Homo sapiens: one gene and its partner. The protein of the gene in region 1 interacts with the protein of each later gene in a biochemical or structural test. Each region holds a gene or a part of one and is shown in the gene's direction. Other genes may lie near its edges.

The links.
Region 2: the proteins of TGS1 (region 1) and NOP58 form a complex in vitro, tested with the Homo sapiens proteins (one study listed by IntAct).

What each region holds. Positions count from the first base shown.
Region 1 is NC_000008.11:55,769,044-55,781,953, forward strand, and holds the start of TGS1 (trimethylguanosine synthase), read left to right. Parts: upstream 1-4,402; 5' UTR 4,403-4,575; coding exon 4,576-4,676; intron 4,677-12,910. UniProt on the Homo sapiens protein: Catalyzes the 2 serial methylation steps for the conversion of the 7-monomethylguanosine (m(7)G) caps of snRNAs and snoRNAs to a 2,2,7-trimethylguanosine (m(2,2,7)G) cap structure.
Region 2 is NC_000002.12:202,287,365-202,299,872, forward strand, and holds part of NOP58 (nucleolar protein 58), read left to right. Parts: intron 1-295; coding exon 296-360; intron 361-2,958; coding exon 2,959-3,093; intron 3,094-3,760; coding exon 3,761-3,906; intron 3,907-3,952; exon of another isoform or gene 3,953-4,064; intron 4,065-5,412; coding exon 5,413-5,539; intron 5,540-5,686; exon of another isoform or gene 5,687-5,770; intron 5,771-8,309; coding exon 8,310-8,473; intron 8,474-10,014; coding exon 10,015-10,149; intron 10,150-10,480; coding exon 10,481-10,542; intron 10,543-12,508. UniProt on the Homo sapiens protein: Required for the biogenesis of box C/D snoRNAs such as U3, U8 and U14 snoRNAs. Part of the small subunit (SSU) processome, first precursor of the small eukaryotic ribosomal subunit.

The sequences.
Region 1 (12,910 bases):
GCCAGGCACAGTGGTTCATGCCTGTAATCCCAGCACTTTGGGAGGCCAAGGCGGGTGGATCACTTCAGGTCAGGAGTTTGAGACCAGCCTGGCCAACATGGTAATGCCGTCTCTACTAAAAACACAAAAATTAGCCAGGCATCATGGTGCATACCTGTAGTCTCAGCTACTTGGGAGGCTGAGGCACTAGAATTGCTTGAACCCGGGAGGCAGAGGTTATATAAGCCGAGATTCTGACAGTGCACTCCAGCCTCAGGGACAGAATGAGAATCCCATCTCAAAAAAAAAAAAAAAAAAAGATAGGAGAAAATACACCCATGTTCAATGTCAACGATAATTCATCAATGGGAGTGAGAAACAGATGATGTAGGAGAGGAGATAATTGTTAGAGCTCTGTCCTTGACTAGGCCAAAGGGGACAGGATACAATGTACAAGTGGATGGCCCTGAGAAGTTTGTGCCAGATACTATTCTAAATATATCAGTAAATAAAATAGTTATCTAAGAAAACATACGAAAAACACTTACTTTCTGGCACATAGTAGGCACCTAACAAATGCTGGCTAAATATACAACTGAACTGTGTTCGTCTAAAACTTTTTTTTTTTGAGACAGAGTCTCACTCTGTCACCCAGGCTGGACTGCAGTGGCTCGATTTCAGCTCACTGCAACCTCCACCTCCCAGGCTCAAGCAGTTCTCATACCTCAGCCTCCCGTGTAGCTGGGACTACAGGCAAGCACCACTGCACCCAGCTAATTTTTGTATTTTTAGTAGAGATGGGGTTTTGCCATGTTGGCCAGGCTTGTCTGGAACTCCTGGCCTCAAGTGATCCGCCCGCCTCCACCTTCCAAAGTGCTCGGATTGCAGGCGTGAGCCACCCTGCTTGGCCTCATCTAAATCTTTAACAGAAATCTGGATCAAAACAGTATCCTAAAACCTGCTACTAGAGAACTATCAGAGGAATTTGAATAAAATGCCTTTCAGTAGATAAAATGTAGCACTTACTTTTGATAATATGACAAAGTGTCTTTAAATCTCAATGCAACCCCTTAATTGTGCAGATAACAAAAAAAGTAAACACAGAAAGCCAAGTTTGCTTGCTTAAAATTACTAAATTAATTCAGTAAAAGCCAAGAACTAAAATTAAAATCTAGTCATCTTACCTCCTGGTCTGGCTTCCAACACACTTTCTTTGATATATCTCTCTTTTTCTCTCTTGACAGAAAGAAAATATTAAGATTGCAATTTCTGTCTTCCCTATACTTCTGCCTGGCCCTTCCCCTTCCCCCTGAATTTACCTGGGGGTGTAACTGACTTCTTATCACTTTATTTTAATCCAAGAAAAATGACATGGGCCAGGGTGGCTCACGCCTGTGATTCCAACAGTTTTCGAGGCCAAGGTGGAAGGACTGCTTGAGTTCAGGAGTTTGAGACCAGCCTGGGGGCAACATACTGAGACCTTGTCTCTACCAAAAAAAGGTTCGCCAGGCATGGTGGCACGTTCCTGTAAGTTGCAGCTACTTGGAAGGCCAAGGCAGGAGGACTGCTTGAGCCCGTGGAGTGAAGACTGCAGTAAGCTATAATGATCACACCACTATACTCCAGCCTGGGCAACTGAGCAAGACCCTGTCTCGGGGGCAGGGGGGAACTCTATGTACTAGAAGATGTTTTGGGGGAAATACAATATTTTAGTTCTCAAAATTCCAGGTTATTTTCTACAGCCCCCTGCTCCTAAAAATCTAAAATAAACACAGTCTAATGCATCACATATAAAGTATCTTAATTTCCCTATCTGGAAATCACGTAACTTTTGTAAAAACAAGTAGACAAGGCCACGCGCGGTGGCTCATGCCTGTAATCCCAGCACTTTGCGAAGCAGCGGCAGGAGGATCACCTGAGGTCGGGAGTTCGAGACCAGCCTGACCAATGTGGAGAAACCCTGTTTCTACAAAAAATACAAAATTATCCAGGTGTGGTGGCGCATGCCTGTAAACCCAGCTACTCAGGAGGCTGAGGCAGAAAATCGCTTGAACCCAGGAGGCGGAAGTTGCGGTGAGCCAAGATCGCACCATTGCACTCCAGCCTAGGCAACAAAAATGAATCTCCGTCTCCAAAAAAAAAAAAAAGTTGACAAGCTCAAATATCACCATATTGACATTGATGGTGAGGATATGGACCTTACAGATGTTTAAAATCAGAGTATTTCAAAAACTAATAAATCAGAACAGAGAACTTTTTGGCTTTCAATAAAACCTTAAGAAAGTGTATCTATTTTAGGCTGGGCTCAGTGGCTCATGCCTATAATCCTAACACTTTGGGAGGCTGAGGCAGGCAAATCACTTGAACCCAAGAATTCAAGACCAGTCTGGGCAATATGGCAAAACCTTGTCTCTACAAAACACACACACACACACACACACACAAAATTAGGCAGGCATGGTGGCATGCCTGTAGCCCCAGCTACTCGGGGGGCTGAGGTAGGAGGATTGCTTGAGCCTGGGAGGTAGAGGTTGCTGTGAGCCGCGATCGCGCCACTACACTACAGCCTGGGTGACAGAGCAAGATCCTGTCTCAAAAAAAATAAATAAATAAATAAATAAAGTATATCTATTTTGAACACCCATTACCAGTACTTTTCCATTTTACTTTTAGTATATAAGTCACATTGAGAACATTCTGAAAATGCCAATTAAAAGATATAGTCACTGAAAAACAAGTTTTCCTGTTTCCTTTCTGCATATTTAATAATGGTTTAACAGAGATACAGCACTGTTTTACTGAATAGGACTTCTACTTCAAACCATGAATAAAGCTGCAATTTAGTATTTGTCAAGATAGCTGGTAAATCTAATCCTTTTAGCTTTAATACTTTTTTTATTTCAAGCTTTAAACTCGAGGTTCTGATACAAATTACCCTTCAAGACTTTTCTTTAATCCTAGAATGCCCAACTTCTAGCTAAAATCTTCCACTCTGTTTCATAATTACTGTTCTACCCTTATTATCGTAACCCAGCTACTCATCCCAATAATGCTGCACATCTATACTGGTATATCTGTAACCGTGCAGCACTCTTACCTTCTTGAACCAACAAAATCAGCCTATCTCCGACCTCAAAGTAGGGCAGCAGTAAGGAGGTGGGAATAAACATTTGAAAATGAATATTTCCACTAACTAGTAAATGTGGCCAAAATACTATTGAAAATACCATTCAAAATGCATGAATTTTAGCTCAGTTTTTATATAGTTCTGAAGAAGTACCAATACTATTTTGGCATTTCGTAGCACCAACCACGTCCGAAGCGCTCCAACTTTCAAGTCTGAGCTTGTCTCTGAAGAAGTTGCCCGTGCAGCCTCCATGAATACCACACACCAAATACTAACTGCTTTTTAACAGATCCAGCAACGCTGCTGTTTCCATTTTCTCCATCCTATTTATGCCCACATGAACTTTTTTCTTATTAGATAATTAGTAACTTGAAGGCAGAGACCTGTTTTACAGGCTGCAAACCCCAGGGACCGAGACAGCACTTAACGCCTACAAGGTCCAAACCGACGCCAACGATTAAGCGCACAAAGGAAAGGTGTAATATACATCATTTCGTTTAGTCCTCCCTGCAGCCTCATGTAGTAGTTACTATTAATCAACCCCATTTCACAGGTGATCAAAGGTAAGCTCAGAAAGGTGAAGTTGCCTGCCCAGGTCACAAGGTAGGACCAGGATTCCAAGCCTGATCGGTCTGGATACGAACGCTCTACCCACGCGGCTTTCCCCCTACACTCTCGGGATCACCACACACTTCCCCTTGGCTTTTACACCGGAGGCTCGACCTGGGTCCCGGAACCAGCGAAGCCACTGGGCAAGCCTAGAGGCCTCTACAGAGGCTAGAGACGCCTCGCCCCACCAGATGCATTAGGATGAAACGCGCCGAACCGAAGGTTTAGAGCGCCAGGGGAGAAGAGGGGCGGGGAGAGCAGGCTCTTTGACCCAGAGGAGGGAGGATCTCCACACCCGGCCACTCTGGCGCTGGGGCGCAACACTGAGGCCGGCGGGAAGCCGAGCCTGCCCGCGAAGAGACTGGGGATTCCGAGGCGGCTCCTGGGAGACCGGACGCGCGCGGCCTCCGCCGCTCCCAGTCCCGCCAGACCCGATGCCGGGCTGGAGAAGCGCGGGGGCCGACGCACCTCGGATAGGCGGGGGCAGGGGCAGGGGCAGCTCTCCTTTACCCTAGAGCGGCGACAGAAGCTCTTCGGGGGATCAGTGGCCAAGGGGGCGGACAGATTTGCACGGCGGATTCCTCCGAAGCAACCCGTGTGAAAGAAGCCAAGCGGCGGCTGCAGCCCGGGCCGCGATGGGGGTGACACCGCCCGTGGTCCCGCCCCTTCCCGTGGCCCCTCGGAGCCACTTCCGGCGGCAGCGTCCGGGCTAGTTCCCGGCGCGAGCGGCCGCGGGCCAGTTTCTATCTCCTCATCCAGGGCTTGCGGGCGAGGCCTGTTTTAAGTCTCCAGTAACCGAGCGGAGGCCCGGCAGGCGCGACCCGGGCTGCGTACGTCAGAGCTGCCTCCGAAGTGGTAAAATGTGCTGCGAGAAGTGGAGCCGCGTGGCGGAAATGTTTCTCTTCATTGAGGAGCGGGAGGATTGTAAGATACTGTGCCTTTGCTCCAGGGCATTTGTGGAGTAAGTAGAAAAGAGAATCTCTTCATGTTCTAGCACAGTCATTACCCAGAAATGTAGGTATTGCAAACGTGGTTGTAATTGATCCCTGAAAGCAGCCAGAACATCTGACCCTTGGGCACGGTGATGTTTAAGAAAAACAAAACCCTCAGACATGACGGAGTGGTCGCCCACTGCCATTATTTTTATGTGAAGGACTACATCTACTTGGTAGGCTGCTATGAAAAAATGTCGTAGGTGCTATATGTCATCTCATATTTGTAAATCGAGGGGACATTTAAAAATTGGGGGAAAGCGACATGTAAAATGAAATCTCTAGTAGATATGATGTCATAAAGTGAAAGTTTAAAGTTGAGTGACTTGCTTTGGTTAACGTCTTTTTTTAAACCTAAAAATCTACTTAAGCCCAAATGCACATAATTAAAACTTCAAACTAGTTGAGATAAAAGACTTAACCATATTTACATCAGTTTTTGTGATATCTTTATTTTGGGGAAATCTTTGAATCAGGTAAAAATTGCCCCACATGAAAAATAGCTAGTATGCAGGAATAATACCGCCAAGAGACTTGAATTCTAGGAATTGTTTCCTTTATATTAAATGCGTGAGTTAAACCACTTGAACCTTTTTTTCATCTCTATAACGGGTATATTTAATCTCACATGCTTATTTTGTTAGAGTTAAATCCTTGTGGAAGTGAATTTTATGTGATAGACTTTTAATATAGTTTAATATAGTAGGATTTAAGTTTGAAGGAATTCATTTTTCTCGTGTAATTTTGTGGAGTAATTTGAAAACGCAAAAAGAAGTTAAACTTGTTAAATTTAATGTAAAAAGTATTGTCGCCTTTTTAGTCAGGCATGCATGTAGTCATACAATCATTCAGAAAATGTTTTTTGTGCTCTTGTATATCAAGTATGCTGGTAGGCACTGAGGTACAAGACATTCTGTCCTTACATGTATTGAGTTTACTTCCTAGCAGAGAAGATCAATATTAAGATAACTGGTTACATTATTACTTGGTTGATTATAGTTATAAGTGCTATGAGAGAGAAGTGCAGGATGCTGTGAAAACAAATAACTTTCCAAGGGTCACAGAGGTTTCTTTGAGGAAGTAGCTTTTGGAAAGAGGTCTAAGGGGGATAAATTGGGGTGAGTTTCAGTGGGAGAAAGCGTTCTCTGCAGGCTGAACTCAGTAAAGGCCTTGAGGGAGCAAAAGAAAGCCTGGGAAACTGAACAAAATGGCTGGGAGGGAGGGCACGGTGGTGCACACCTGTAATCCCACCACTTTAGGAGGCCGAGGAGTGAGGATCACTTGAGCCCGGAAGTTGGAGACTAGCCTGGGCAACATAACAACACCTCATCTGTACTGAAATTTTTTTTTAAAATTAGCCAGCTGTGGTGGCACATGCTTGTAGTCCCAGCTACTCTGGAGGCTTGGGCCAGATGCTCTCTTGAGCCCAGGAGATCCAGGCTGCAGTTAGCCATTGTCGTGCCTGGATGACAGAGCAAGACTCTGTCCCGAAAAAAAAAAAGAAAAGAAAAGAAAGAAAAGAAAAAAAACTGGGAAAGAAAGAAGATAGGGTGTGCACAGTAGGCAGGGTCAAAACCCGCAGGACTTTGTAGACTATAGGAAAACCTTAAGCTGGGGAATGACATGATCAGATTTGCATATTTAAAATACTACTCAGGCGGCAGTGTGGAGGATTGTTTGGAGGAAGAGAACCACTTAAGACCATTGTTTAGGCAAGAGATTATAGTGACTTGGATTAGGATAAATGGCAGCAGAAATGGAGAAAGAAAGAAAGATGGGAGAAAACTTGCTGGGGGTGGGGACTGAATTGTATTGCTGCCTTTCACTGAGGTAGGGATCACTGGAGAATCATGAATTTTATTTTGGGTCAACGGAGAAGAGATTATGAGTTTGATTTTATACATTTTGATTTGGGGGTATCTATGAGATAACCAAGAGTAGATGGTATAAGCAGTTAGATATATTGATTTGGAGCGCTGGAGAAGTCTGGGCTAGTTTTAAAAACTTGAGCCATTTAGCCTTAGATAGTGATTGAACCCATGAATGAAGGGTGGGGGAGGGGGACCCACCTTTGAGGAATTCCAGCACTTTTTAAAGACAAGAAGAGATGGATTAACTAGGAAACAGACAAGCCTAAGTACACTGTCACCAAGTGTTTCAGTGAAGGTGTAATCAACATTGGAAAGCTGCCAAAATATCAAGCAAAATGAGGACTAAAAGTATCCACTAGAATTGACTAAATCCCTTGGATCGATTGACTGTAGCAGGAAGAACCGCAGACAAAACCCCTCAGACACCAGGTTAAAGAAGGAAGGGGTTTATTCGGCCAGGAGCATCGGCAAGACTCCTGTCTCAAGAGCCGAGCAACCCGAGCGAGCAATTCCTGTCCCTTTTAAGGGCTCACAACTCTAAGGGGGTCTGCATGAGAGGATCGTGATTGATTGAGCAAGCAAGGGGTACGTGACTGGGGGCTGCGTACACCACTAATTAGAAAGGAACCGAACTGGACAGGGGTCTTCACGGTGTCTTTTTTTTTTTTTTTTTTTTTGAGACAGAGTCTCGCTTTGTTGCCCAGGCCAGAGTGCAGTGGCGAGATCTCTGCTCACTGCAAGCTCCACCCCCTGGGTTCACGCCATTCTCCTGCCTCAGCCCACCAAGTAGCTGGGAATACAGGCGCCCGCCACAATGTCCAGCTAATTTTTTGTGTATTTAATAGAGACGGGGTTTCACTGTGTTAGCCAGGATGGTCTCTGTCTCCTGACCTCTGATCCACCCGCCTTGGCCTCCCAAAGTGCTGGGATTACAGGCGTGAGCCACTGTGCCCGGCCCAGTGCCTTTTTTATGCAAATAACCGATTAGGTCAGGGGTGGATCAGTAACTACCAGGCCCAGGGTGTGGCGCCGGGCTGTCTGCTTATGGATTTCATTTCTGCCTTTTAGTTTTTACTTCTTTCTTTGGAGGCAGAAATTGGGCATAAGACAATATGAGGGGTGGTCTCCTCCCTTAGATGACTTATTAAGTGCCACCACTAATTGTTCTACATTTTGTACTGACAGAGACTCTCCTTAACCAGACTTTACACAGGCTCTGAGTGAGCTCTCCTTTTGATTAGGCCTTGTCATTTGGGACTTGTCTTCAACCTGTCTGGTCCAGTTTTAACAAGAATCCTTCTAAGTCCATTAGTTTTTTTGTTTGTTGGTTTTTTTTTGGTGGTGGCGGGGTGGTTCTTGGGTGTTTTTTTTGTTTTGTTTTTTGGGTTTTGGGAGGTTTATTTTGAGACTGGGTCTCACTTTGTCACCCAGGCTGGAGTGCAATGGTACAATCACAGCTCACTGCAGCCTCAACTTCCCTGGCTCAAGCAATCCTCCTACCTTAGCCTCCTGAATAGCTGGGACCACAGCTATGCACCACCATACCTGCCTGATTTTTTTATTTTTTGTAGAGACAGGGATCTCACCTTGTTGCCCACACTGGTCTGGAATGCCTGGGTACAAACAGTTTTCCCACCTCAGCCTCCCAAAGTGCTGGGATTACAGGTGTTTTTTTTTTTTTTTAGCCAGAATCCTGCTAAGTCCATGTAGCAAGATCTTCCCACCCTTCGTATCTGATCGCTCTGGCCTGCCCTCAGCAAGAATACTGTTGGTATAGCAACAATCCCCCCATGCTGGATGTCTCCCCTTAGTAATTTTCCATCCACTGACCACGCCCCCTGAATTTTGCCCATTGGCTATCTTCAGCTGTCTTTGCTATATTTGAAGTTGAGCAAAATTTCTCTCCATTGCCATTATCTTTTTTTTTTTCTCTTTTGAGACAGAGTCTCACTCTGTCGCCCAGGCTGGAGTGCAGTGGCATGATCTCGGCTCACTGCAACCTCTGCCTCCCAGATTCAAGCAATTCTCGTGCCTCAGCTTCCCAAGTAGCTGGGATTACAGGAGTGCACCACCATACCCGGCTAATTTCTGTATTTTCAGTAGAGATGAGGTTTTACCTTGGAGGCTGGTCTCGAACTCCTGACATCAAGTGATCTGCCCGCCTTGGCCTCCCAAAGTGCTGGGATTACATGCGTGTGGCTACCATTATGTTGATTACTATCGCAATTATCCTAAATAAAGCCTTTCTTTACCATTTTAACAAATGTCAGAATAATTTAAATTTTTTTTTTTTTTAATTTAAGCCTTCTAGCAGCCCCCTGAGGTATGTCTTGTTATCCTCACTTATTCAAGTAGAAAATTGAGTCTTGGCTGGTTGTGGTGGTTGACATCAGTAATCCAAGTACTTCAGGAGGTTGAGACAGGCAAATCGCTTGAGCCCAGAAGTTCAAGACCAGTCTGGGCAACATGGCGAAACCCCATCTCTACTAAAAATACAAAAAATTAGCCAGGCATGGTGGGGCACTCCTGTAGTCCCAGCTATTCTGGAGGCTGAGTCCAGGAGGTGGAGGCTGCAGTGAGCCATGATCGTACCACTGCACTCCAATCCGGGTGACAGAATGAGACCCTGTCTCAGAGTCTCAGTAGTGGCCTAAAAAAAATCACATAGCCAGTAAATGGCAGCCTTAGAATTCTACCGCACATCTGTATGACATGAGAGCCTTTCTACTATGCTACCAGTTGGCATAGAACATGATTTCATTGAATCTCCCTCATTAAGGTATTTAAGTAGTCTAAAGTCACTAGAACAACTGATGTTCTGTTCAGACACTTTAACATTAATATAGATTCGTGGAGATAGAGGACTATTCTGGAAACTGAAGAGCCTATATTTCCCTCTGATCATACTCATGTGACAGTGTCTGATGGTGATCTCTAGTCTTTCATATATGATACAACGAAATTGTTTGATATGTTTTCCCCCCAACAGGTTCCTGAGTCAGAATTTAAAAGAGTAGTGACCTTATAGACAGCATATCTGTGTGCTTTTACAAAACTCAGCTGTGTGGCCTTAGGCAAGTCACATATTATTTCTGTGATCCCCTTTTAACCTTTCAGAAAGGGCTTCCTTTCCATTTTACTACTTGAAAATGAAGCTGATTCACAGTCCCTTTGCAAAAGAGGAATTGCTACTTGTACTTCAGATATTGCTAAGAATCTTATATTCAGCATTTATTTCAGCCGCCCGAGTGTCAGGTGCTGCAATAGAAAGATGACTTAGGCATCATAGTGATGATTGCTATATTCAGAGGTATGAGGATAAGAATTCAGGTGGCTGCTTAGGGCTCTAAGGAGAGCAGTATCTTAGTGGGATTACTACAATCCAGGTTGGGTCTTCTGCTTTACAATTCAAGTCAGTAGTTAAGATTTATTTAGTCCTTACGTGTGCCAGGTCCAGAAATTACAACAAATCTTCTATTTTTGAGGCCATCAATTCATCCAGAGTCATTATGCTCTGTGGATTAAGGTACACTAATCAAACTCAAAGACAGCTTTATAGAGACTACTTAGCAAGTATAATGGAAATTCTTCAAATGCCAGGCATTAGAAATACATCATTCCCGGTGATGAATGCTCTTGGAGATACTTGAAAGTTTTAAGTAAGAAACAGTTTTCATAAAAATATAACAGCTGGTAATCTCTTGTTGCTGATCTTTCTGCCTCAAATTATCAGCAGCCTTGGAACATACGGTAATAACCTTGGACATCTGATTTACCTCTCACCCATGAGGAAAGGCCTTTCTGCCTCTTTCTCAGGACCTGACCTGTTAAGCTGGGCCCATCCTCCAGAAGGCTTACAGGCTAGCACTGTGGTGGGACCAAAAAGCTCACTAGAAAAAAATACCTGGCTCTTTGTAGGAGATGCAGGCCAGGAAAGGAAAGTCACCTTGCAGTCAGTGGCAGCCCAGGCTACATGCTTAATTCACGGCCCACAGTATGATCGGGTACTGATGCTACTTTTAGGAAGCCCTCCTTCTAAAAGAGAAGAAAGAATATAAGTTATGAAATATAAAAAGTTGAGAAGATTTCTCAACTCACACCTCTAGAAAATAATACACAATTGGATTTGAATCAGAATGACTTTTAAAACACTATTTAATGACCATCTTATCAATTCCATTGAATTTCATCTTTTTGAACTGAAACATGTATGCTTTTCATTACAAATAATTTCATATGTATTCTTTTTTTTCCTTTTTTTTTTTTTCTTTAAGACAGAGTCTTGCTCTGTCGCCCAGGCTGGAGTGCAGTGGCAACCTCCACCCTCTGGGTTCAAGCAGTTCTCATGCCTCAGCCTCCCAGGTAGCCAGGACTACAGGCCCACACTACCACACCCAGCTAATTTTTGTATTTTTAGTAGAGACAGGGTTTCACCATGTGTGCCAGACTGGTCTCAAATTCCTAGCCTCAAGTGAGCCACCCACCTCAGCCTCCCAAAGTGCTAGGATTATAGGCATGAGCCACCATGTCTGGCATGGCTTTTTTTTTTTTTTTCTTTTTTTTTTTGAGTCAGAGATTCGCTCTGCTGCTGAGGCTGGAGTGCAGTAGTATGATCATTGCTTACTGCAGCCTCAGCCTTCTGGGCTCAGGTGATTCTCCCAGCTCAGCCTCCCATATAGCTAGAACCATAGGTGTGCACTACTACACCTGACTAATTTTTTTTGTTTTTTCTAGAGGTGGGGTCTGACCTTGCATAACCTGGGTCTGTCTGATGTTTCATCAGGAATAGTTGGGTCATGCCTTAGCAGGAGTGCCACAGAAATGATGCTATGCCCAGCTCTGTGTGGCCTCAGGAGGCACTTTTTGTAGACAGTATACCATCATGGGTGATGTTGCTGAATGCCAGGTTTTCTACTGTAAAGTCACAATAGTTCCCTTTGTATTAATCAGTATTTTGTGGGGGCATATTCCAGTGTTATATCAGTATCCTGTTTTCCAGTAAACCCACAAGCCTTGGCCTTCATTGATAACTTCCCCCTGAATCAGCTACCTCTGTGAAGGATGCCAAGGAGTAGTTCTTGTCTTCTTCGCTCCTACTGCATTTATTAGTTAGTATTCTGTAAGGAGCGCTTTCCCTTCTCTCCCCATGTATTTATTCATTTATGTTAACATGGAATCTAGATTCTTAGTTTACTAACAGGTTATATTCCATTGCTAACATTAATTTGGTGCTGATATTGTCTCTGATTTGGCCAGAGTTCCCAGTGGGGAACTCTTTGAAGTGGCTCCTGTGTCCTTTTGGTATTTCTAGTGTTGAGTGCTTCCTAATCTTCTGGCATAAGATGACCCAGGTTTATCTTTTACAGTTCATGCTCCAACCTGGAATTGTCATTTCTCCGGGCAACTTGGTTCCTTTCGTGGAAAATAGTATTTAGAAACCAAAAGCTGGCTGCTCATTGTGCTTATTGCTCCTGTGCCCTCTTAGTAGAGAGAGTTGAGCAGTGTTATATATGTGTGTTTTACACGCATACATGAATGTGTCTGTGTATATATACACACATATGTAACACTTTTAAAAACTATTTTTATGTCTGCTGTGTATATAAACTTAAATGCCATGAGTTTATAACAGTACTTCTAATGTTGGCCCAACACCTGAGGGTTCTTTCTAGCCTTCCTTCCTATCAGATAATGTCTTGAGCCCACCTTGCTTTTAAATAACCTTCTTCATTTCTATTTAAAAAAAAACCAAAAATTTTTTATTTAAAAACATTAAAATAAATTTTAAAATAATAAAGTAAATAAGTAACCTTCAACAAGGGGAATCTTGGCTAACATTATCTTCAACACATTTACATATTTGCTCATTATAACCAACTTGCAACCAACCATACTGGTCCTCTCCTCCACCTGACACTTCAGTGCCTCATATCTTTAGGTGCTGGCGGGCAGACCAGTGATGCCCCCTGTGCAGCTCCTGCTTCCCACCCCCAGTGCCCATGTTCCTGGGGACCAGTTGCTGCCAAAGCACATTTGCACGTCACCCCCTTGCCTGTTCATCATCCTGCTGAGTCACCACCTACTTTACATTTAATATAGTATCTCCAAAAAAGAAGCAAGAGGATGTGAAATAGAGCAAGTACACTAGAATTTTATTTAGTTAAATTTATTGTAGCTCCATTAGAAAAGTTATGTTAGCTTCCACTTGCAATTGGCCTTCTTGTGGCAGTTACAGTGGAGTTTATTACAGCTGAATTTATAGTCAGGAAGATATTAAAAGCAGAGTCTTCCACTTTTTCTTAAGTATTCTGTTAGGTTTATTTTGGTAACCT
Region 2 (12,508 bases), on another chromosome or scaffold:
CCAATATGACTTTTGTATTACACAGCTTATCCTATTTGTCATTCATACATAAACTCATTCATGTTACAGAAATAAAGGTCGTAGCAGCACATATAGTTTTTTTTTTTAATGTGTATTTTCTGTTCTCGTATGGTGCATTTCTACTTAGCTGATTTTTCTTCTTAGAAAAACCAATTACAGCTCTGACTACAGGCTGATTTGAGTAAAAACAAAAACAAAAAAAAACTTTAAGGTGTTAATTTAAATGCTTTTCCTAGATGCTATCTTGCTAATTTATTTTCCCCTTTCTTCCCAGCCTGTCTCGATATAGATTGAAGTTTAGCGCTGATAAAGTAGACACAATGATTGTTCAGGCAATTTGTAAGTATAGTACATGCAAAGTCCGATTTGTTGCTCTGTCCTTCATGCGTTTTCATACTGTTGAAACTATCTTTTATGATTCTGTCTGTTGAGAAAGAGAAAGGAGGCCAGGTGTGGTGGCTCAAGCCTTTAATCCCAGCACTTGGGAGGCTGAGGCAGGCGGATCACCTGAGGTCAGGAGTTCAAGACCAGCTTGGCCAACATGACAAAACTCTGTCTTTACTAAAAATACAAAAAAAATTAAATGTGCATGGTGGCGTGTACCTATAATCCCAGCTACTCAGGAGGCTGAGGCAGGATAATTGCTTGAACCCAGGAGGCGGAGGTTGACTATTTGGAGATTATATGAATCACAGAATTAACATTACGTTAATTAATTCATTTGTATTTTTCCATGAAAATGTTAAAAACATAAGTGCAATCTTTGTAGTTGTGTATTCTGCTGTGTCATTAAATGGTTTTTAGAAAGCTCAAAAGCTGCCAGGCACAGTGGCTCATGCCTGTAATCCCAGCACTTTGAGAGGCTGAGGCGGGAGGATCACCTGAGGTCGGGAATTTGAGACCAGCCTGACCAACATGGAGAAATCCCGTCTCTACTAAAAATACAAAATTAACCAGGCATGGTGGTGCATGCCTGTAATCTCAGCTACTCGGGAGGCTGAGGCAGGAGAATCACTTGAACCCTGGAGGCAGAGGTTGTAGTGAGTTGATCGTGCCATTGCACTCCAGCCTGGGCAACAAGAGCAAATCTCCATCTCACTAAAAAAAAAAAAAAAAAATCAAAATCTTAATCGTTTTTCTATTTTAGAAATGCATTCGGCCGTGGCTCACGCCTGTAATCCCAACACTTTGGGAGGCAGAGGCTGGTGGATCACCTGAGGTCAGGAGTTCGAGATCAGGCCAACATGGTGAAACCCGATCTTTAGTAAAAAATAAAAAAATTATCTGAGCATGATGGTAGGCGCCTGTAATCTCAGCTATTCAGGAGGCTGAGGCAGGAGAATCACTTGAACCTGAGAGGCGGAGGTTGCAGTGGGCCGAGATCGCACCATTTCACTCTAGCTTGGACAACATGAGCAACACTCCGTCTCAAAAAAAAAAACAAAGTATTCGGCTGGGCGCAGTGGCTCACACCTGTAATCCTAGCACATTGGGAGGCCAAGGCGGGTGAATTGCCTGAGCTCGGGAGTTTGAGAGCAGCCTGGCTAACATGGCGAAACCCTGTCTTTACTAAAAATACAAAAAAGTAGCCAGTCGAGGTGGCGTGTGCCTATAGTCCCAGCCACTTAGGAGGCTGAGGAAGGAGAATCACTTGAACCCAGGAAGCAGAGGTTGCAGTGAGCTGAGATCGCACCACTGCACTCCATCCTGGGTGATGGAGTTAGACTCTGTCTCCAAAAAAAGAAAAAAAAAAGCGCTCAACCAGCGATTCCTTTCCTAGATTTATACCCAAAAGAATTAAAAACAGAACTGAGTTGCTTGTACACCTATGTTCATAACAGTGTTATTTACAAAACCAAACAGTGGAAACAACCCAGATACCTTTTAACAGATGAATGGATAAACTGCATTGTGGATGCAGCTTGAATGTCCCTAATCTGAAATTCAAAATGCTCTGAAATCTAAAACTTTTTGTGGTACCACACAAATCCACAAGTGGAAAACTCCACACCTGACCACACGTCAAAACTTTGTTTTATGCACAAAATTATTTAAAATATTGTGTAAAATTACCTTCAAGGTTTTGTATATAAGGTATATGTGAAATGTAGATGCATTTCCTATTTAGACTTCGAGTTCCATCCTCAGCCTCATACGTGTTTGCAAATACTCTGAAATACTTCTGGTCCCAAGCATTTTGGGTAACGTACACCCAGCCACTTCACACAGTGGAATGTTAGTCAGCCTTAAAAAGAAATGAAATTCTGATACATATTTCAACATGATAAACCTTGAAAATATGCTAAGTGAAATAGTCACAAAATACTGCATGATTCTGCTTATATGAAGTACCTAAAATAGGTGAACTCAGAGACAGAAGTATAAAGATAACTAGAGGTTGGGGGGAAGGTGGGAATGAGTTACTGTTTAATGGGTACAGAATTTTTCAGTTTCTGATGATAAAATTGCTCTGGCAATAGATCCTGGTAATGGTTGCATAACATCATAAGAATACTTAATGCTACTGAATAGTACACTTGAAAATGGTTGAAGTGTTATTTTTTATTCTTTTTTTTTTAAATTTTTTGCGACGGAATCTTGCTCTGTCACCCAGGCTGGAATGCAGTAGCACGATCTCGGCTCACTACAACCTCCACCTCCTGTGTTCAAGTGATTCTTCTGCCTCAGCCCTCCAGAGTAGCTGGGACTACAGGTGTGCACCACCATGCCTGGCTAATTTTTGTATTTTTAATAGAGATGGGGTTTCACCATGTTGGCCAGGCTGGTCTTGAACTTCTGACTTCGTGATATGCCTGTCTGCTGGGATTACAGACATGAGCCACCGTGCCCAGCCTGAAGTGTTAAATTTTATGTTGTGTATGTTTTACCACAATAAATCCCTTTAAGTTTTGTTTGTTTGTTTTTAATCTACTACAGCCTTGTTAGATGACTTGGATAAAGAACTAAACAACTACATTATGCGATGTAGAGAATGGTATGGCTGGCATTTCCCTGAATTAGGAAAAATTATTTCAGATAATTTAACATACTGCAAGTGTTTACAGAAAGTTGGTGAGTAATTTGTTCATCCTTTAAGGCATTGAAAGTAAATGAATTTGATTGCATCCTAAAACATGACGTATAGCATTTTGTTAAGCAAGATTCCCAGGGTTTTTGCAATTTCTGTGTATTTGGGAAGTGTAGCAGTTTAGTGTCTTAAATTTAAGAAACAAAATGAATTTTAACTTAGATTTTGATGGCCTATAACATGATATTAGTACCTAATGCTAAATAGCAGTATTGCCGTCTGTACTGTTAATATACAGAGGAACTTGATTGTTGATTGTCGTTAACGTACAGAGGAACTTGATTGATTGATGGTTTACTTGCCTTACGAATTACTGGCCCCAGCTTCAGTATAAAATTGTCTGTGACATTATTATTAGTCCTGTCTTTTTTAAATTTTTGCCACTTATATTCTGTAATAAGTGTTGTGGCATATTTTGTCCTCTTTTTACTCTGATTATTTTTTGGAAGAAGGTGGTGGGGAGACATTTAATGTCTAAACTTAAACCCTTAAATGAGGAAAACTGTTATACTAGGTCAAACTTCTTCATTTTTTTTGTTTTGTTTAGGCATCCTTTTCATTGGCTTTCTACTTTTTCTTTTGACTATTTGCTGGATTTTATATAATTTGTTGAAGAGTGATTCTCCCTCATCCTCTGCAAACATTCCATAGGCGATAGGAAGAACTATGCCTCTGCCAAGCTTTCTGAGTTGCTGCCAGAAGAAGTTGAAGCAGAAGTGAAAGCAGCTGCAGAGATATCAATGGGAACAGAGGTTTCAGAAGAAGATATTTGCAATATTCTGCATCTTTGCACCCAGGTAAATTTTACTCCTGGAGAATCTAGTTGTGGTGTTACCAGCTCTATAGTACTAATTTTTCTGATGGCAATGATGATTTTTACACTTATTGTTGTTCACCTGATAACATAAATATGAGGGTGTTCAGTCACTACCTCATCTGATGCCATCATGATTTGTATACTTAAAAGGGGGAAATACATATTAAAAGGAAGTAATTTACAATCATCGTCTGAATAATGAATTAACCAAAAATCAATTAAGATGGCAGAGAAGGCCAGGCGCGTTGGCTCACGCCTGTAATCCCCGCACTTTGGAAGGCCGAGTCAGGGATTGACCTGAGGTCAGGAGTTCGAGACCAGCCTGACCAATATGATGAAACCCCCATCTCTACTAAAAATGCAAAAATTAGCTGCGCGTGGTGGCGTACACCTGTAATCCCAGCTACTCGGGAGGCTGAGACAGGAGAATCGCTTGAACCAGGGAGGGGGAGGTTGCAGTGAGCCGAGATGGCACCATTGCATCCAGCCTGGGCAACAAGAGCAAAACTCCATCTCAAAAAAAAAAAAAAAAAAAAAAAGGATGGCAGACAATTATGGATTGAGCCTTTTAATTCTGAGTCTTATGTCTATATCTTGTGATTTTTTTTTCTTTCAGATTTGAAGGTAGCCATATAGGAATTAAAAAGAGCATGATACAAATGTTTATTGCTCAGAATCTTTTTTTTTTTTTTTTTTTTTTTTTTTTTTTTTTTTGAGACAGAGTCTCACCCTGTAGCCCAGGCTGGAGTGCAGTGGCACGTTCTCAGGCTCACTGCTACCTCTGCCTCCCAGGTCCCAGTTCAAGCGGTTCTCCTGCCTCAGCCTCCCGAGTAGCTGGGATTACAAGCACGTGCCACCATGCCCAGCTAATTTTTGTATTTTTCATAGAGACGGGGTTTCACCATGTTGGCCAGGATGGTCTTGAACTCCTGACCTCATGATCCACCTGCCTCGACCTCCCAAAGTGCTGGAATTACAGGTGTGAGTCACTGTGCCTGGGCTGCTTAGAATCTTTTAAAAATACAGTTACGCTGACTAAGATTTTCAGGCAGTGGACCAAGTAGTTTACATACATTATATAACGAAGTCCTCATTACAGCCATCTTATAGAAAACTGATGTTAGGATCATGAGGTCAAGAGATAGAGACCATACTGGCCAACATGGTGAAACCCTGTCTCTACTAAAAATACAAAAAATTAGCTGGGCGTGGTGGCGGGCCCCTGTAGTCCCAGCTACTCCAGAGGCTGAGGCAGGAGAATCACTTGAGCCCGGGAGGCGGAGATTGCTGTGAGCTGAGATTGCGCCACTGCGCTCCAGCCTGGGAAAAAAAAAAAAGAAAACTGATGTTAGGCATAGGTGATGTACCCAGTACCCAGGGTTGTGTAGCTGCTCTTTCATAATTGAGGGCTCCAGTGTTTTAGACAGGAATTTTTACTGTTTTTACTCATATGATATTTGTGACTTAACTTTATTCCTTATACTAGGTGATTGAAATCTCTGAATATCGAACCCAGCTCTATGAATATCTACAAAATCGAATGATGGCCATTGCACCCAATGTTACAGTCATGGTTGGGGAATTAGTTGGAGCACGGCTTATTGCTCATGCAGGTGATGGTTTTAATGTAATTTGTAAATATGAGTGTTTGAAGTATTTTCTGGTTAGGATTTTGTTTACATCTTTAAACTACAGCTGTTAAAGAAATTTTAGCTGATAACACAAAAGTAGATGATATGTGGGAGATCACTAAGGGCCAAGTGTTCAATGATGATTTCTATTTGTTTGCCTGATTTCCTTTTGGATAATGAAGGCATCTTTAGTCACTACCTCTTCTGAGACACTTGTGGTCCATTGTTAGAAGTTTGTTAGGGTTAATTAGAACAATCGGATGAATGCAGGAGGATAAAACAGTTAACATTTTCATAATAAAAACTCACTAGACCTAGATTTGAATACAGTTTTAAGAAATCACTGTAGAGAAAGAAAAAAAAAAGAAATCACTGTAGAGGATTTGTGCCCTTGATTGATTACCTTAGTTTCACTATTGAGTGTGAGGATGTAATATATTTGACTTTCAAAAATATTTTCAACAACTGATTTATAATAAAACTTTGTATATGTGTATGGCAGTATTATAAGGATGATATGCTATAATTAAAATGCTATGTAATTGAATACCTACAAATACAATGAAGTACTGATTCATCATTTTTATGTTACTTGGAGACATTGTTATAATTCATCAAAAAAGATTATATCATCTGCATCAGAGTGTTTAAAATGGCATAACTCCTTTTTTTTTGTTTGAGACAGAGTTTCACTCTGTTGCACTGGCTGGAGTGCAGTGGCTCACTGCAACCTCTGCCTCCCAGGTTCAAGCAATTCTCCTGCCTCAGGCTCCCAAGTTGCTGGGATTACAGGCATGTGCTGCCACCATGCCTGGCTAATTTTTATATTTTTAGTTGAGACAGGGTTTTTGCCATGTTGGCCAGGCTGGTCTCAAACTCCTGACCTCAGGTGATCTGCGCACCTCAGCCTCCCAAAGTGTTGGGATTACAGGCGTGAGCCACTGCGCCCGGCCTGGCGTAACTCCTTTAGCTGCATCATTAATCAAAGGTTTCATTCAAATGCCCTCAGCTATAAGATCAGATGATTTCATTGTCTCTACCCATTTTCATAGGTATAGCTAAACTTGTAGCAGTAAGCAATGGCAGGGGTTAATAGAAGTATGTATTTGTTGGCCAGGCGTGGTGGCTCACGCCTGTAATCCCAGCACTTTGAGAAGCTGAGGTGGGTGGGTCACCTGAGGTCAGGAGTTCGAGACCAGCCTGGCCAACATGGTAAATAAAACCCCATCTCTATTAACAACACAAAAATTACCCAACCTTGGTGGCATGAGCCTGTAATCCCAGCTACTCGGGATGCTGAGGCAGGAGAATTGCTTGAACCCGGGAGGTGGAGGTTGCAGTGAGCCAAGATTGTGACATTGCACACAGCAGTGGTGACATTGCTTGCCTGGGTGACAAGAGTGAAACTCCATCTCAAAAAAAAAAAAAAAAAAAGAACTATGTATTTGTTACACTTTTAAAACTATGTCTAGTGCTTAAGTTCATAGTATTAATAGAGTCTGTTTTCTGACAGGAAATATTCTATACAGCATATCCAACTAAGCAGCATGTTGATAACAATAGTCCCCAGCTATTTATGGAGATGTATTCTAAGCTCCCCCCTCCAAGAATGTTTGAAACAGAGGATAGTACTGAATCCTATACTGTATATGCTGTTTTTTCCTAAACATACATATCTATAATAAAGCTTAGCTTATAAATTAGGTACAGTAGGATATCAACAACAGTCATAATATAACAGTTATAACACTATGCCAGCAGGGCCGGGTGTGGTGGCTTACGCCTGTAATCCCAGCACTTTGGGAAGCTGAGGAGGGTGGATCACGAGGTCAGGAGTTCAAGATCAGCCTGGCCAAGATGGTGAAACCCCATCTCTACTAAAAATACAAAAAAAAATTAGCTGGGTGTAGTGGTGGGTGCCTGTAATCCCAGCTACTCGGAGGCTGAGGCAGAGAATTGCTTAAACCCGGGAGGCGGAGGATGCAGTGAGCCAAGATCGCGCCACTGCACTCCAGCCTGCGCAACAGAGCGAAACTCTATCTCAAAAAAAAAAAAAAATGCAAGCATAACTATTTTTGTGCATTGGTTACTTGAATATAAGCACTGCAGTACTGCACAACGGAGAGGGCTACGAAAGTGACTAATGGGTAGATAGAGATGATTCATGTCCTGGGGGGAGCTGAGTGGGATAGCAAGAGATTTAAAACTTAGGAACTATTTATTTCTGGAATTTCCTTTTTAATATTTTCAGACTGCAGTTAACCACAGGTAATTTACCACACAAAGTGAAAGCACAGGTAGGGGACTATTAATAGATACTTGTAGGAATATCTCTTCCTAATAAATGTGTTTATTTGTAGGCTTTTTCATATCTAAAGCAATAGAATATTTGATACAATCTCAGAAAGCAGGGACCAGATTAGTGTTCGTGTGTGTGACATTTATGTCACTCCTGTAGTATACTAATGGAATTTAGAATAGTACTGCCATCTCTCAGGTGAATAGAAACATTGAACTTAATAAGCTTAGCCTTCAGTTTGTCCTAGGCATTCATTGCAAACCTGCTTGTGCTAATGAAGGAATTACAAATGAAACATCAAGATTTTTAGGGAATTCTGGATTATAGAATTCTATATTATATGTGATTTTTATTTATTATGGTGGCTGTAATAATTCTATAGGTCTTTTGTTTCAGTACGTGGAACATTCATATATTTGGAGGTGCATTCTTTGTAACTTTTTTCTTTTGTAGGTTCTCTTTTAAATTTGGCCAAGCATGCAGCTTCTACCGTTCAGATTCTTGGAGCTGAAAAGGCACTTTTCAGAGCCCTCAAATCTAGACGGGATACCCCTAAGTATGGTCTCATTTATCATGCTTCACTCGTGGGCCAGACAAGTCCCAAACACAAAGGAAAGGTGTGTTATAGGGTTTTGCTTTGTTTTTGAGGTTAGACTTTTTCATTTTTTACAACCCATTTTTCTTCTACTCTGTAGTACACATTAAATCTTCTATTGTCTCTTTCTTGTTAAATAGGGAATGGTGAGTTATTTAAATAAAAAGTGCTTTGTGTACACTGAAGGATAAGGTTAGAAGAAACTGTTATTGGTTGGATTAAAGCCAGTTTCTTCCATTGTGTTAGTATTTTTTTCCCCCCTAGAATCTCCCTGTGGTTGGCACACTGAAAATACTATCTCTGGCAGCAAAAAAAAAATCTAACATTTACGAATCATAAAAAATAGCATATGCATTATGCTAAAACACTTTGAGAGAAGTCACTAAACTTTTTTTTTTTGAGATGGAGTCCCGCTCTGTCGCCAGGCTAGAGTGCAGTGGCTTGATCTCGGCTCACTGCAACCTCCAGCTCCCTGGTTCAAACGATTCTCCTGCCTCCCTGCCTCAGCCTTCTGAGTAGCTGGGATTACATGCACGTGCCACCACGCCCGGCTAATTTTTGTATTTTAAGTAAAGACCAGTTTCACCATGTTGGCCAGGCTGGTCTCAAACTCCTGACCTCCTGATCCACCCACCTCGGCTTCCCAGAGTGCTGGGATTACAGGTGTGAGCACCTGTGCCTGTCCTAAATCTTCAGTAGCCTTATGAGATGTAGGTATCTCTATCTTGCAGATGATGAAACTGAGGCTTAGACAAGTTAAGTACTTTCAATGTTTTTGAAAGATGTGTCGTTTAACAGATCTAAACTGAAAATTGATAAAATTTAGAGCAGAGTGGTGGAGGAAAATAAAGCGTTCAATAAAATAAAATGTTAATTAGATTGAAAAAGAACCCACGCTTTTTTTTGTTTGTTTGTTTGTTTGTTTGTTTGTTTTTTGAGATGGAGTCTCACTCTGTCGCCCAGACTGGAGTGCAGTGGTGCCATCCCGGCTCACTGCAAGCTCTGCCTCCCAGGTTCACGCCATTCTCCTGCCTCAGCCTCCAGTGTAGCTGGGACTACAGGCGCCCGGCACCACACCTGGCTAATTTTTTGTATTTTTAGTAGAGACAGGGTTTCACCGTGTTAGCCAGGATGGTCTCGATCTCCTGACCTCGTGATCCACTCGCCTCGGCCTCCCAAAGTGCTGGGATTACAGGCGTGAGCCACCGCGCTCGGCCAGAACCCGCACATATTTAAGATTGTTACGAGGAAAAAGATGCACTTCTTTTCAGTGACCTCATAGCACAGAACTAATGTCACTGAGTAGAAACTAAAGTTTAAAAATATTTTTTAAAAAAACCTAGTTTGAGCTAATATTTGACATGAATTGCTGTAAAATCTTTTCAGCCACAGAAGTGTTGGTGGTGATATATGGCCATTAGATTGTGGCAAAGGTTGAAATACGATGGATGATTTGAATTGTATGATTCATAATAGTTTTATAACTCCTGATTTTAAAACATCCAAGTTATTGAGGATTTTACATCTGAACATGGAATATAGTTCTTCATGTTTTTCTATTAGATTTCTCGAATGCTGGCAGCCAAAACCGTTTTGGCTATCCGTTATGATGCTTTTGGTGAGGATTCAAGTTCTGCAATGGGAGTTGAGAACAGAGCCAAATTAGAGGCCAGGTTGAGAACTTTGGAAGACAGAGGGGTAAGAACTACATCATGCCTATTCCAGAAGTATTACTTGTCAAAAGTTAATAAACTGAGTAAATTTATTAACTTCATCTGCTAAACAGTTTTATGATACTTATTAGTATGTCTAAAGTATTCTTTTTGTGCCTACTGTTAACAATTGCTATTATTTACCAAGAATTGATGTATCCAACTGCATTTGCCATTAGGATATGCTATTCAAAATAACAAAACAAAAAATAGCAGAAATTGCTGTTTGCTGGCCCACTGATTCACTAGACTGTATAGTGTATTATAAAGAGATTATGACTTAGAAGTGTATTTGTAATTTTTCGTTTTCTTCTTAGATAAGAAAAATAAGTGGAACAGGAAAAGCATTAGCAAAAACAGAAAAATATGAACACAAAAGGTGAGTACATTTAAGTGAGGATGGGGTGAATAGTTTTTTTAAATGTTAATTATTGACAGTAATTTTTTATTGTAAACTTCACCTTGATGTGCCCATAGTTTTTTCAAATTTATTTATTTGACCAAAATTGTGTATGTTTATTGTGTGTATGTTGTTTTGGAAAATGTGCACATTGAGGAATGATTAAGTCAAGCTCATTAACATGCATTGTCTTATGTACTTTTTTTGTGGTGAGGACACCTTAAAATCTACTTAGCAATTTTCAAGAATATAATACATTGTTAGCTGTAGTTAACCATGTTGTGCACCCCTAATTTTTTTCCATGCCATTTAGTTTTCCGCATTAACTTCTACTAGTTTTCATTCATATACATATTTAATTTATTCATTTCCAGATATTGATAGTAAATTTTTTTAATCTAAAGTTCCTCTATAATATGTTCTTTATCAAAAAGTTCACTCAGCCGGGCACAGTGGCTCATGCCTGTAATCCCAGCACTTTGGGAGGCTGAGGCAGGCAGATCACCTGAGGTCAGGAGTTCAACACAGGCCTGGCCAACATGGTGAAACCCCATCTCTACTAAAAATACAAAAAATTAACTGGGTGTGGTGGCGGGCACCTGGCTGAGGCAGGAGAATTGCTTGAAACCCGGGAGGCGGAGGGTGCAGTGAGCTGAGATCGCGCCCCTGCACTCCAGCCTGGGCAACAAGAGCAAAACTCCGTCTCAAAAAAAGTTCATTCAGAGTTAATCCCTACAGAAACCTATTTTGTAAAAAGTATAAAGACAGAAAACAAGTCTAAAGATGGCTGAGGCATGACAAAGCATTCAAACTTAACTATCAGATTAACAAAAGATTTGTATGTGGAGGGGTATTTGGGTTATTATTTGAGGCAATGCTCAATGCTGGTGAGGTTGTGATGATGCAGGTAGAATGTGGCACAGCTGTTCTAGGAAGCCATTTCACAGTATGTATCAAGATTCTTCAAAATGTTCCTAGTCATTAACCCAATAAATTATACTTTCAGGAGTCATAATCCTTCAAGATTTTTTTTTTTTTTTTTTTTTTTTTTTTGAGACAGTCTGTCTCTGTTGCCAGGCTGGAGTGCAGTGGCACGATTGCGGCTCACTGCAACCTCTGACTCCCCGGTTCAAGTTATGCTCCTGCCTCAGCCTCCCGAGTAGCTAGGATTACAGGCATACACCACCACATCCAGCTAATTTTTGTATTTTTAGTAGAGTCGGGGTTTCATCATGTTGGCCAGGATGGTCTTGATCTCCTGACCTCGTGATCCGCCCGCCTTGGCCTCCCAAAGTGCTGGGATTACAGGCGTGAGCCACAGCACCCGGCCTCCTTCAAGAATTTTAATAGTAAAATCTTATAAGTGGATGAGGAGAGTAATTAATATATAGAACATTACCAATTATAAATACATATTTAAGTATAATTTAGTGTTTTCTGGAAAGAAATCAAATGTGTTTCTGTGGGCATTCACATTTTCTTTTTTGTGAATTTTCCAAGCTTTCTACAATAGCCATACATTCTGCAATATTTATAGTCTATAACTTATTATCTCTAGTTGACAAACATGGTTCTTTGTTTCTTAAATTATAAATGTCTTTAACCTAAAAAAATTAAATAGTCATTCAGCTTACAGGTCTGCTTAAAAAACAGAACATTTTTTAGCTTGTTTTGAACCAATTTTTTTAATGTTCCTGTGCAATTAGTACTTTTTACTTTAAACATATGCACTTAAAGCATCCATTCACATTTTAGGCACTCATTTCAGTATTTTCTTTCTGCTTACATTAGAACAAAAGCAAATGTTGGGTTCTATGGAATCTTTTCCATGTGCATGTATTTGTATCCTTTCTTGTTCTTGTGATCTTGTGATGAAGACTTCTATACTAAGCTTGGTTTAGATTTTTTGTTCTGCTTTTTTTTTTTTTTTTTTCCCCCATTGAGC